Linked DNA regions of Homo sapiens. The protein of the gene in region 1 purifies or fractionates together with the protein of each later gene. This does not show direct contact. Each region holds a gene or a part of one and is shown in the gene's direction. Other genes may lie near its edges.

Region 1 (5,154 bases):
TGGTGGCTCACGCCTGTAATCCTAGCACTTTGGGAGGCTGAGGTGGGAGGGTCATGAGGTCAGGAGTTCGAGACCAGCCTGACCAACACTGTGAAACCCCATCTCCATAAAAATACAAAAATCAGCCGGGCGTGGTGGTGCACGCCTGTAATCCCAGCTACTTTGGGAGGCTGAGGCAGGAGAATCTCTTGAACCCAGCAGGTGGAGGTTGTAGTGAGCCAAGATCGTACCACTGCACTCCAGCTTGGGCGACAGAGCGAGACTCTGTCTCAAAAACAAAAACAAACAAACAAAAAAACCACAAAAAACAAACCTTCATCATCCTGTGTATTACTATATCTTTTTTTAATGTACTGATTTTGCCCTATTTGAAGCAGATTGACAGTATACATCTTGGCCTTAATATAAGAGTTATCAAACTTTTATATTTTTATAACTTAAAATATAAGAGTTATAAAACTAGTTTTCTTTATAAGAGTTATAAAACTAGTTAAACTGCTTTTCATAGTTCTTTTATAACAGAGTTATGTTAAATGTTACTTTAATTTTCAAGGGAAGACTTGGAAGGACCAAACCCCTAAAAATGATTTAAAAGTCTAGGAAGCAGGTCCCAAGTAATTAAACTGTCATGACATTTCCTTCCCATGCTTTCAAAAGATGTTTGATAAAGCAAGATCTTTTGGAGTTGTTTATTTAACTTAGGGGATGAGACTAGGTAATATTTTGCATACCCAGATTCAAGGAAGTAAACAGGCAGAATGAAAGATAAAGCACTATTAAAATATGGTGGGTCTTTTCTTTTTTGTGTCTTTACACAGTTGCTGGTTATATTTATTCTTTCGTTTGTATAGATGGTGTCACCTCTGATATGTCTGAGTTAGAAATCTTCAGACTTTTTTTTTATGCCATTAGTGTAAGTCTCTTTCATGTACAAATGTTGAGAATGAGCCTCAGGTATCAGTTGAGTAATGGGACCCTGTATAGGTCCCATTATTTTTAGGATCAGGGAAGTTTTTAAAATCAGTTTTAAACCCTTTTTACAGTGTACCTCTTTGATAAGGAGATTGTGCTTTGGCTGTCATTTGATTTTTTTTTTTTTTTTTTTTTTTTTTTGAGACAGAGTTTTGCTCTCGTTGCCCAGGCTGGAGTACAGTGGTGCGATCTCAGCTCACTGCAACCTCCGCCTCCCGGGTTCAAGCAATTCTCCTGCCTCAGCCTCCCAAGTAGCTGGGATTACAGGCATGCGCCACTACACCCGGCTGATTTTGTATTTTTTTTTTAATAGACTTGGGGTTTTTCCATGTTGGTCAGGCTGGTCTGGAATTCCCAACCTTGGATGATCCGCCCGCCTTGGCCTCCCAAAGTGCGGGGATTACAGGCGTGAGCCACCGCACCTGGCCGGCTGTCATTTGAATTTTTATTATTTTATTTTATTTTATTTTTTTGAGGCAGGGTCTCGCTGTGTCGCCCAGGCTGGAGTGCAGTGGTGCGATCTCGGCTCACTGCAACCTCCGCCCCTCCAGGTTTAAGCAATTCTCTGCCTCAGCCTCCGGAGTAGCTGGGATTACAGGCACGTGCCACCACGCCCGGCTAATTTTTTGTATTTTTAGTAGAGATGGGGTTTCACCATCTTGCCCAGGCTGGTCTTGAGCTCCTGACCTCGTGATCCACCCGCCTCGGCCTCCCAAAGTGCTGGGATTACAGGCGTGAGCCACCGTGCCTGGCTTGAATTTTTTTTTTTTTTTGAGACGGAGTTTTGCTCTGTCGCCCAGGCTGGAGTGCAGTGGCGCCATCTCGGCTCACTGCAAGCTCCACCTCCCGGGTTCACGCCATTCTCCTGCCTCACTCAGCCTCCTGAGTAACTGGAACTACAGGCGCCCTCCACCACGCCGGGCTAATTTTTTTTTATATTTTTAGTAGAGGCTGGGTTTCACCGTGTTAGCCGGGATGGGCTCGATCTCCTGACCTCGTGATCCGCCCGCCTCAGCCTCCCAAAGTGCTGGGATTACAGGCGTAAGCCACTGCCCTCCGCCCGAATTTTTAAAAATTAATTTTATTATTATTATTTTTGAGACGGAGTCTTGCTGTGTCACCAGGCTGGAGTGCAGTGGCACAACCTTGGCTCACTGCAATCTCTGCCTCCCGGGTTCAAGTGATTCTGCCGCCTCAGCCTCCCAAATATCTGGGATTACAGGCACCCGCCACCATGCCCGGCTAATTTTTTTTTTTTTTAATTTCTAGTAGAAACGGGGTTTCACCATGTCGGCCAGGATCATCTCGATCTCCTGACCTCGTGATCCGCCCGCCTTGGCCTCCCAAAGTGCTGGGATTACAGGTGTGAGCCACGGTGCCCTGCCTAAAAATTAATTTTTTTTTTTTTTAATAACTGAGTCTTGCTCTGTCGCCAGGCTGGAGTGCAGTGGCACGATCTCAGCTCACTACAGCCTCTGCCTCCCGTGTTCAAGCAATTCTCCTGCCTCAGCCTCCTGATTAGCTGGGACTACAGGCACACGCCACCACGTCGGCTAATTTTTTTTTTCTTTTTCTTTTTCTTTTTTTTTTTTTGTATTTTAGTAGAGACGAGGTTTCACCAGGTTGCCCAGGCTTGTCTTGAACTCCTGAGCTCAGGCAATATCTGCCTGCCTCAGCCTCCCAAAGTGCTAGGATTACAGGTGTGAGCCACGGTGCCAGGCCAAAAATTAAATTTTTTAAACAGCAAATGTATATTCATTATAGAAAAGGAGAAAACACAAACACCAAGAAGAAAATTCTTGGTTGGGCCTTAGGTTGGGCCCAACCCTTAGGTTGGGACCAGCGGCTCATGCCTGCAATCCCAGCACTTTTGGAGGCCGAGGTGGGCGGATCACCTGAGGTCAGCAGTTCGAGACCAGCCTGGCCAACATGGCAAAACCCTGTATCTACTAAAAATACAAAAATTAGCCGGGCATGGTGGTGGGCACCTGTAATTCTAGCTACTTAGGAGGCTGAGGCAGGAGAACTGCTTGAACCTGGGAGGCAGAGGTTGCAGTGAGCCGAGATCGTGCCACTGCACTCCAGCCTGAGTGACAAAGCAAGACTCCCTTTGGGGGGTGGGGGAAAAGATGCAGGAAAAAAAAAAGCTGACATTTATTTTGTGCCAATTCTGTTTGCCAGGCATTACAGTAGATGCTTTACAGACATTATCTTTTTTTTTTTTTTTTTTTTGATGCAGAGTCTGGCTCTGTCGCCCAGGCTGGAGTCCTGGAGTGCAGTGGCACGATCTCGGTTCACTGCAGGCTCCATCTCTTGAGTTCACGCCATTCTCCTGCCTCAGCCTCCCAAGTAGCTGGGACTACAGGTGCCCGCCACTACGCCCGGCTAATTTTTTGTATTTTTTAGTAGAGACGGGGTTTCACTGTTAGCCAGGATGGTCTCGATCTCCTGACCTCGTGATCCTCCTGCCTTGGCCTCCCAGAGTGCTGGGATTACAGGCGTGAGCCACCGTTCCCGGCCAGACATTATCTTTTAAGCTCATGATAACTGCTGATGAGTAAGGAAACTTCAGGCTCAGAGAGTTTAAGTATTTTGCCTGGTATTACTTAGCAAGTAATGAAAGCTAGAAAGGATGGTAGCCTGACTTCTAGCATTGTGATAGGGTGTTCACATACATAACCTTATTTCATCCATACAACAGTGTTCTACAGGTATTACTCTGGTTTACCGACATGTAGCAGGCTCACAGAGCATCATTATCTGTGGTTGGTACTTGAAGTCTCAGATAGGATAGTTGATTTTCAGATCCCTTTGGGTGCTACTTTTGGAAATGCTACTAGTTGCATGTTTTTCACGTTGATAGTTTGTAGCCTTCAAGGGAGGTAATTTTGGATTTGTCAGAAGGGTAGTGGTCAGTAGTTGAAACAGCTGTTTGAAATACTGAGGGCTTCATTTGCTAAAGAAAGGTGAAGATGAATTACTGAAAGAGATCGCTTTTATCTTTTTTCTCTTCTTAAAAAGCTACTTTCCAACTTTATTCCATGCCTTAATAATTTAAAAGAAATTAAAACCTCTAAATAAATCTTTAATACTCATGACAGGGTGTTCTTTCATTCTTTATTCAAGACACATTTTTGTGGAACAGGTACTATATGCCAGGTCTTGAACCAGATGCTGGGAATAGAGAAATGGGATACTCAGTCCCCATTATCAAGTTACTTACAGTCTAGTGGGGAAGACAGAAAACCAACACTACAGGATTGTGATACTGTAAGTGCAGTATACTAATAAAATATATTAAGTGCTGTGATGCCAGTATCCAGGTGTTGCTGTGGAGAAACAAGGACCGCTACCTAAGGCAGGCTAGGAGCCGTGTGAAATTTTGAAAGACATCCCAGGGGAATCTGAGCTAAGTGCAGGGAGGTAAGTAGGGATTTGCTTCTAAATGGAAAATGGAGAGTGAGTTGTCCTGAATGTCAAATAATTTATATAACTGGAGCCATATATATGTGTATGTGTGTGTATATATACATCTTATATGTATATGTTATATATAACATATACTTTATGTATATGTTACTTATATATGAAGTATATGTTATATATAACGTGTGTGTGTGGGGGTATATATATATATATATATATATTTTTTTTTTTTTTTTTTGAGATAGAGTTTCACTCCTGTTGTTGCCCAGGCTGGAGTGCAATGGTGTGGTCTCGGCTCACTGCAAGCTCCACCTCCTGGGTTCAAATGATTCTTCTGCCTCAGCGTCCCAAGTAGCTGGGATTACAGCCGCCTGCCACCACACTCGGCTAATTTTTGAATTTTTAGTAGAGACAGGGTTTCAGTATGTTTGCCAGGCTGGTCATGAACTCCTGACCTCAGGTGATCCACCCACCTCGGCCTCCCAAAGTGCTGGGATTACAGGTGTGAGCCACTGCACCTGGCCTACTGGAGCCATATATATATTTAATACATGGGGTGGGGAAGGGGATTGTATTTTTAGTAATGAGTGGACCCAAGATTTTAAGGCAGAATTGTGACATGATCATTCTGGCTATGCTGTGGAGGGAAAAAAAGAGGAGAGGTACAAACACTAGTAAGAACACTTGGGGAGTAACAAGGCAGCCCTTGAACTGAGGCAGGTGGAAGAAAGGAGAGAAGGTGGATTTAAGAGATAC
Region 2 (4,344 bases), on another chromosome or scaffold:
CAATAAGTTTTAATCTTCGTAATCTCTAAAGATGGAGATTGGGGGTGAGTGGGTTTGGAATTCTGTATGGGTGAGGACAATAAGAAAAGTCTGCACTAATTGAAATATTGCCAGGCTTTTGAGTTTCCTCTGGGGGGACTTAGTTGTGACTAGAATCCTGGGTTTGGGACATTGGCGGGCGGGGGTGTAGCTCTTGACATCTCTTCCTTTTCCATCTTGCCGGCCCCAGTGGACCACAGACCAGCAGCTGATCCAGGTTATTCGCTCTATAGGAGTCTATGATGTGGTGGAGTTGAAATTTGCAGAGAATCGAGCAAATGGCCAGTCCAAAGGGTGAGGTCTGGATTTGAGAAGCCCCTTTTAATTTGTAACCATTGGGATAAAAGATCTGTACTATATTTTGGCCCTGGATTTTAATCACTCCCACCCCTGGCCCAGCTTACTGCCTTGGTTTTGGCAAACTGCCTTAGAAAGGGACCTAGCTGCAGTGTAGTAGAATATCCATCTGTTAAGGGGCGAAGAATACTGATTTTTAATTCCAAAAAAATAAAGATTTAGGCTGTCTCTTTGTTGTTAGTGCTGTATGTGTGTTTAGTTTAGCAAGATGTCCTTTGCTTTATCAATTTTTACTAAAAGTGGAAGAGAATTTCTTTTTTCTTCTCTTGGCTGTCTACAGATTTCATTCATTTTTAATTTTTCTTTCCTAAGGTATGCTGAGGTGGTGGTAGCCTCTGAAAACTCTGTCCACAAATTGTTGGAACTCCTACCAGGGAAAGTTCTTAATGGAGAAAAAGTGGACGTGAGGCCGGCCACCCGGCAGAACCTGTCACAGTTTGAGGCACAGGCTCGGAAACGTGAGTGTGTCCGAGTCCCAAGAGGGGGTACGTGGAGACCATCTGTATGAGGGGGGGGTGTTTGTGGGTTTGTTTTCTATGGTGTAGGCTTAGCCTACAGTGTGGGTGAGTTTGGGGGAGGGTGATGGTGGTTGTGAGTGGTGTCATGGTCGACAAGTAGTCCTCAGAATAGGTCTATATAGAAGAAAGAGCATTGTGCTGGGAGTCAAGTAGGTTCAGGTTGTAGTTTGGTTCTGCCACTGACTCGTGTGACCTTGGCCAAGTCACTTTACTACTTAGGGCCTGTTTCCCCATCTGGACTAGTGACATGATGTTTAAAGTTCCATCACCTCTAAATTCTGTGTTTCTGTCTAAAACTTGGCATTAGGTGAATGGGCTTAATTTTTAAGACATGCCTCTCTATAAATTATCAAGAAGCAGCCACCCTAAAATGTAACTAAAAGGTGCCTATAATCTTTTCATAAACGTTGATTGGAAGGATACTGTAAGGAATCAACCAAGAGGAGTGTTGGAGAATAAGACTTGAACAATATTTCTCCAGCATTGTCCAGGGGAGAGGGTGCTCTTTTGATTACCAAATGTTTTAGTCTGCTTGGCAGTTATATCCCATTAGTAAAGAAAGTTACAGGCCGGGCGCGGTGGCTCACGCCTATAATCCCAGCACTTTGAGAGGCCGAGGTGGGTGGATCACGAGGTCAAGAGTTTGAGACCAGCCTGGCCAACATGGTGAAACCCCATCTCTACTAAGAATACAAAAATTAGCCGGGTGTGGGTGACACATGCCTGTAATCCCAGCTACACGGGAGACTGAGGCAGGAGAATTGCTTGACCCCGGGAGACGGAGGTTGCTGTGAGCTGAGATCAGACCACTGCACTCCAGCCTGGGCAACAGAGCAAGACTCCATCTTGGAGGGAAAATAAAAAAGTTAGGGGCTGGGCATGGTGGCTCACACCTGTAATCCCAGTGCTTTGGAAGGCTGAGGCGGGCAGATACCTGAGGTCAGGAGTTCGAGACCAGCCTGGGCAACATGGCAAAACCCTGTCTTTACTAAAAATACAAAACTTAACCAGTTATGGTGGCACATGCTTATAATCTCAGCTACTCGGGAGTCTGAGGCAGGTGAATCTCTTGAATCCAGGAGGTGGAGGTTGCAGTGACCTGAGATTGCACCACTGCCTTCCAGCCTGGGTGACAGAGTGAGACTCTGTCTCAAAAAAAAAAAAGAAAAAAGAAAGTTACCTCAGAACTACCTTAGTTTGAGGACAGTTTCCCCAATGTCCATCTTACTCTCTTTATTCTGACTGTACTCACTAAGCCACTTTCTGATGCTAATTTGGTTTCCCAATTAGGGTCTCCTACTAGGAAGAGAATTCGCTGACCAGCCGACACAAGTATTCTGGTCTGCTTGGCAATTACATTTCTCATTGTAAATTAATAAATTGGTGTTATGGTTTATGAATCAGTCTCTTGTGAGTTTGGTTAGCATGAATCAGTCTCCTAGGGCCTAGTCACCCCAGTTGAAGCAAGTTTCTGAACCTGAGAAACCTGAGGACTAGACCTTGGATTTTCCTGACCTCATAAAGTGCAGCCACCCTGCAAGACCTTCCCTGAGACAGCCAACCACCCTTATTTTCTTTTGCTACAGTGGGAGGAACAGCAAAGTTTCATCACTGATGTTCTGTCACTGCTTAGGTCCAGCTCTCAAAATAGTGCCTTGTATTGATTGGGTGTATCCTCCAGGTAGAAATAGGACCACTTTGCTCTTGCATAGGAACAGCTGTTCTTTTAACTAGATTGACAGCCTAGATAGATTTGGTGTGAACTCTTGTTGTTCCATGTTAGAAAGGACACACTCTTCTTCCTTGACAAGTTGTATTTTCAAGTCCCCTCTGTTTTGGAGTCTTTCTGTAATTCACCCCTGACTTTCCTTAGGTATGTAATTTTACAACTGTATTGGGGGTAACGTTCTACTTCTACTCAGCTACTTTTCATGTTACTTTTTTTTGCTGAAAAGATTGTGTAACTGAGTGCTGTTTTTCTGCTCTGTCATGCTGATGGACCTGGGCTCTGTTAATTCACTAAGTAAAGCTGGTGGACTTCCTCTGCATAGAAATGTTGCGTCTTTTGGGACTTGTAGCCATAGATACAAAACAACCTTTGCAGATGTGACAACAGTAGTAGCTGGGAAAGTGGTTAACTGTCAGATGACACTTGCCTTATACCTTTTTGTTCTTCAGTTTGAGAGAACTCTAGGAAAGAGCCAGTTGCCATGTGTTTGAGACCTGAAGAACAAGACAGCACTGGCACTGTTCTGTAAGAGAAATCTAGGTGGTTGTCAACATAATTGATTCCACCTTAGGCTTTACTCAGGAGCTGGGATTAACTATCATATTCTAGTTTAAGGAGCACTCTTTCCTCCACACTTGCTGCCAGTGGCATCTTTCTATCTCCAAGACCCCCCCAAAGCCATGTGATCTTGTTCTTCTATTGGATTCCACAATAAACAGGCTTAGACTGTTAAACTGGAGAGAAGGAACAAGTTTAACCAAGTGACTTGACAATGTCAGAATCCATGCTTCCAGCTGTTTAAAACATGTTCTGAGCTCCTGTTGTGCACAGCACCATACTAGCATGTGGTGATGGTGTTCCTGTTAGGCTGCCCTGAAGGGTAGAGGATTTTGGCCATTGAAATGTAGCGGGAGTTCCCCAGATTGGAGACATGTTTTGTAGCAAGCTTTTGCTAAGCATCCTTACTGTCAGCTGTGTGCTATCTGCTTGTGCTGTGGGCGGATCTTTTATTGGCGTATCTCCCAATTTTTCTTATCTTTCACTTAACCTCCAGTTGTCTAGTCTTCATGTGTGTCTCTTTCTCACCCTGATTACTAGTTTTAGTATGTAAATAGAAGTGCCATCCAGTTCCTGCCACTCCCTCTCTTCCCTTAAATTCCCTAGCCAACACCCTGTGGCAAAGAGAACATTTTAAGTGTGCAACAGGAAGAGGTTAACTAGTATTAGTTTAAGGAGAGAGGTCCTGAACTCTTCAGGAGATGTGGGGTTTCAAGTCAACTGCAATTCACCTGAACATCAGTGAACACTGTCATTTTCTCGTGGGCTATCAGGATCCTTCTACATTTAAAAATAGAAGATACATATAAGGATAAATTAAATCTGTTCTGAAGCACTTCTGGAGTTATGGATGGAAAACATTCTTTGACAGGATTTAGGACGATATTGTTTTTTGGATTTAATGTCTTCACTGAGTTGCTTCTGACCTCTGAAGCCAAAAAAAAGGCAGTAGATGATTTTACCTTCTCAGCCTCTTTAGTCACCTTCCTTTGTAGGGTGTCTGATAACTTCTGAAGGATGAACTGGTCCTGTGGGTTTGTGTAAAGCCTGGGCAGTAACATCAGTTCTGTTTTGCTTCATAGGAATACCTCCACGGGCCCATTCCCGAGATTCTAGTGATTCTGCTGATGGACGGGCCACACC

Evidence for each region.
Region 2: the proteins of LMNB1 (region 1) and CPSF7 purify together in Homo sapiens (affinity purification with mass spectrometry; one large-scale study listed by BioGRID and IntAct). This does not show direct contact.

Annotation. Positions count from the first base shown.
Region 1 is NC_000005.10:126,782,929-126,788,082, forward strand, and holds part of LMNB1 (lamin-B1), read left to right. Parts: intron 1-4,379; exon of another isoform or gene 4,380-4,395; intron 4,396-5,154. UniProt on the Homo sapiens protein: Lamins are intermediate filament proteins that assemble into a filamentous meshwork, and which constitute the major components of the nuclear lamina, a fibrous layer on the nucleoplasmic side of the inner nuclear membrane.
Region 2 is NC_000011.10:61,416,459-61,420,802, reverse strand, and holds part of CPSF7 (cleavage and polyadenylation specificity factor subunit 7), read left to right. Parts: intron 1-229; coding exon 230-333; intron 334-708; coding exon 709-854; coding exon of another isoform or gene 855-881; intron 882-4,283; coding exon 4,284-4,344.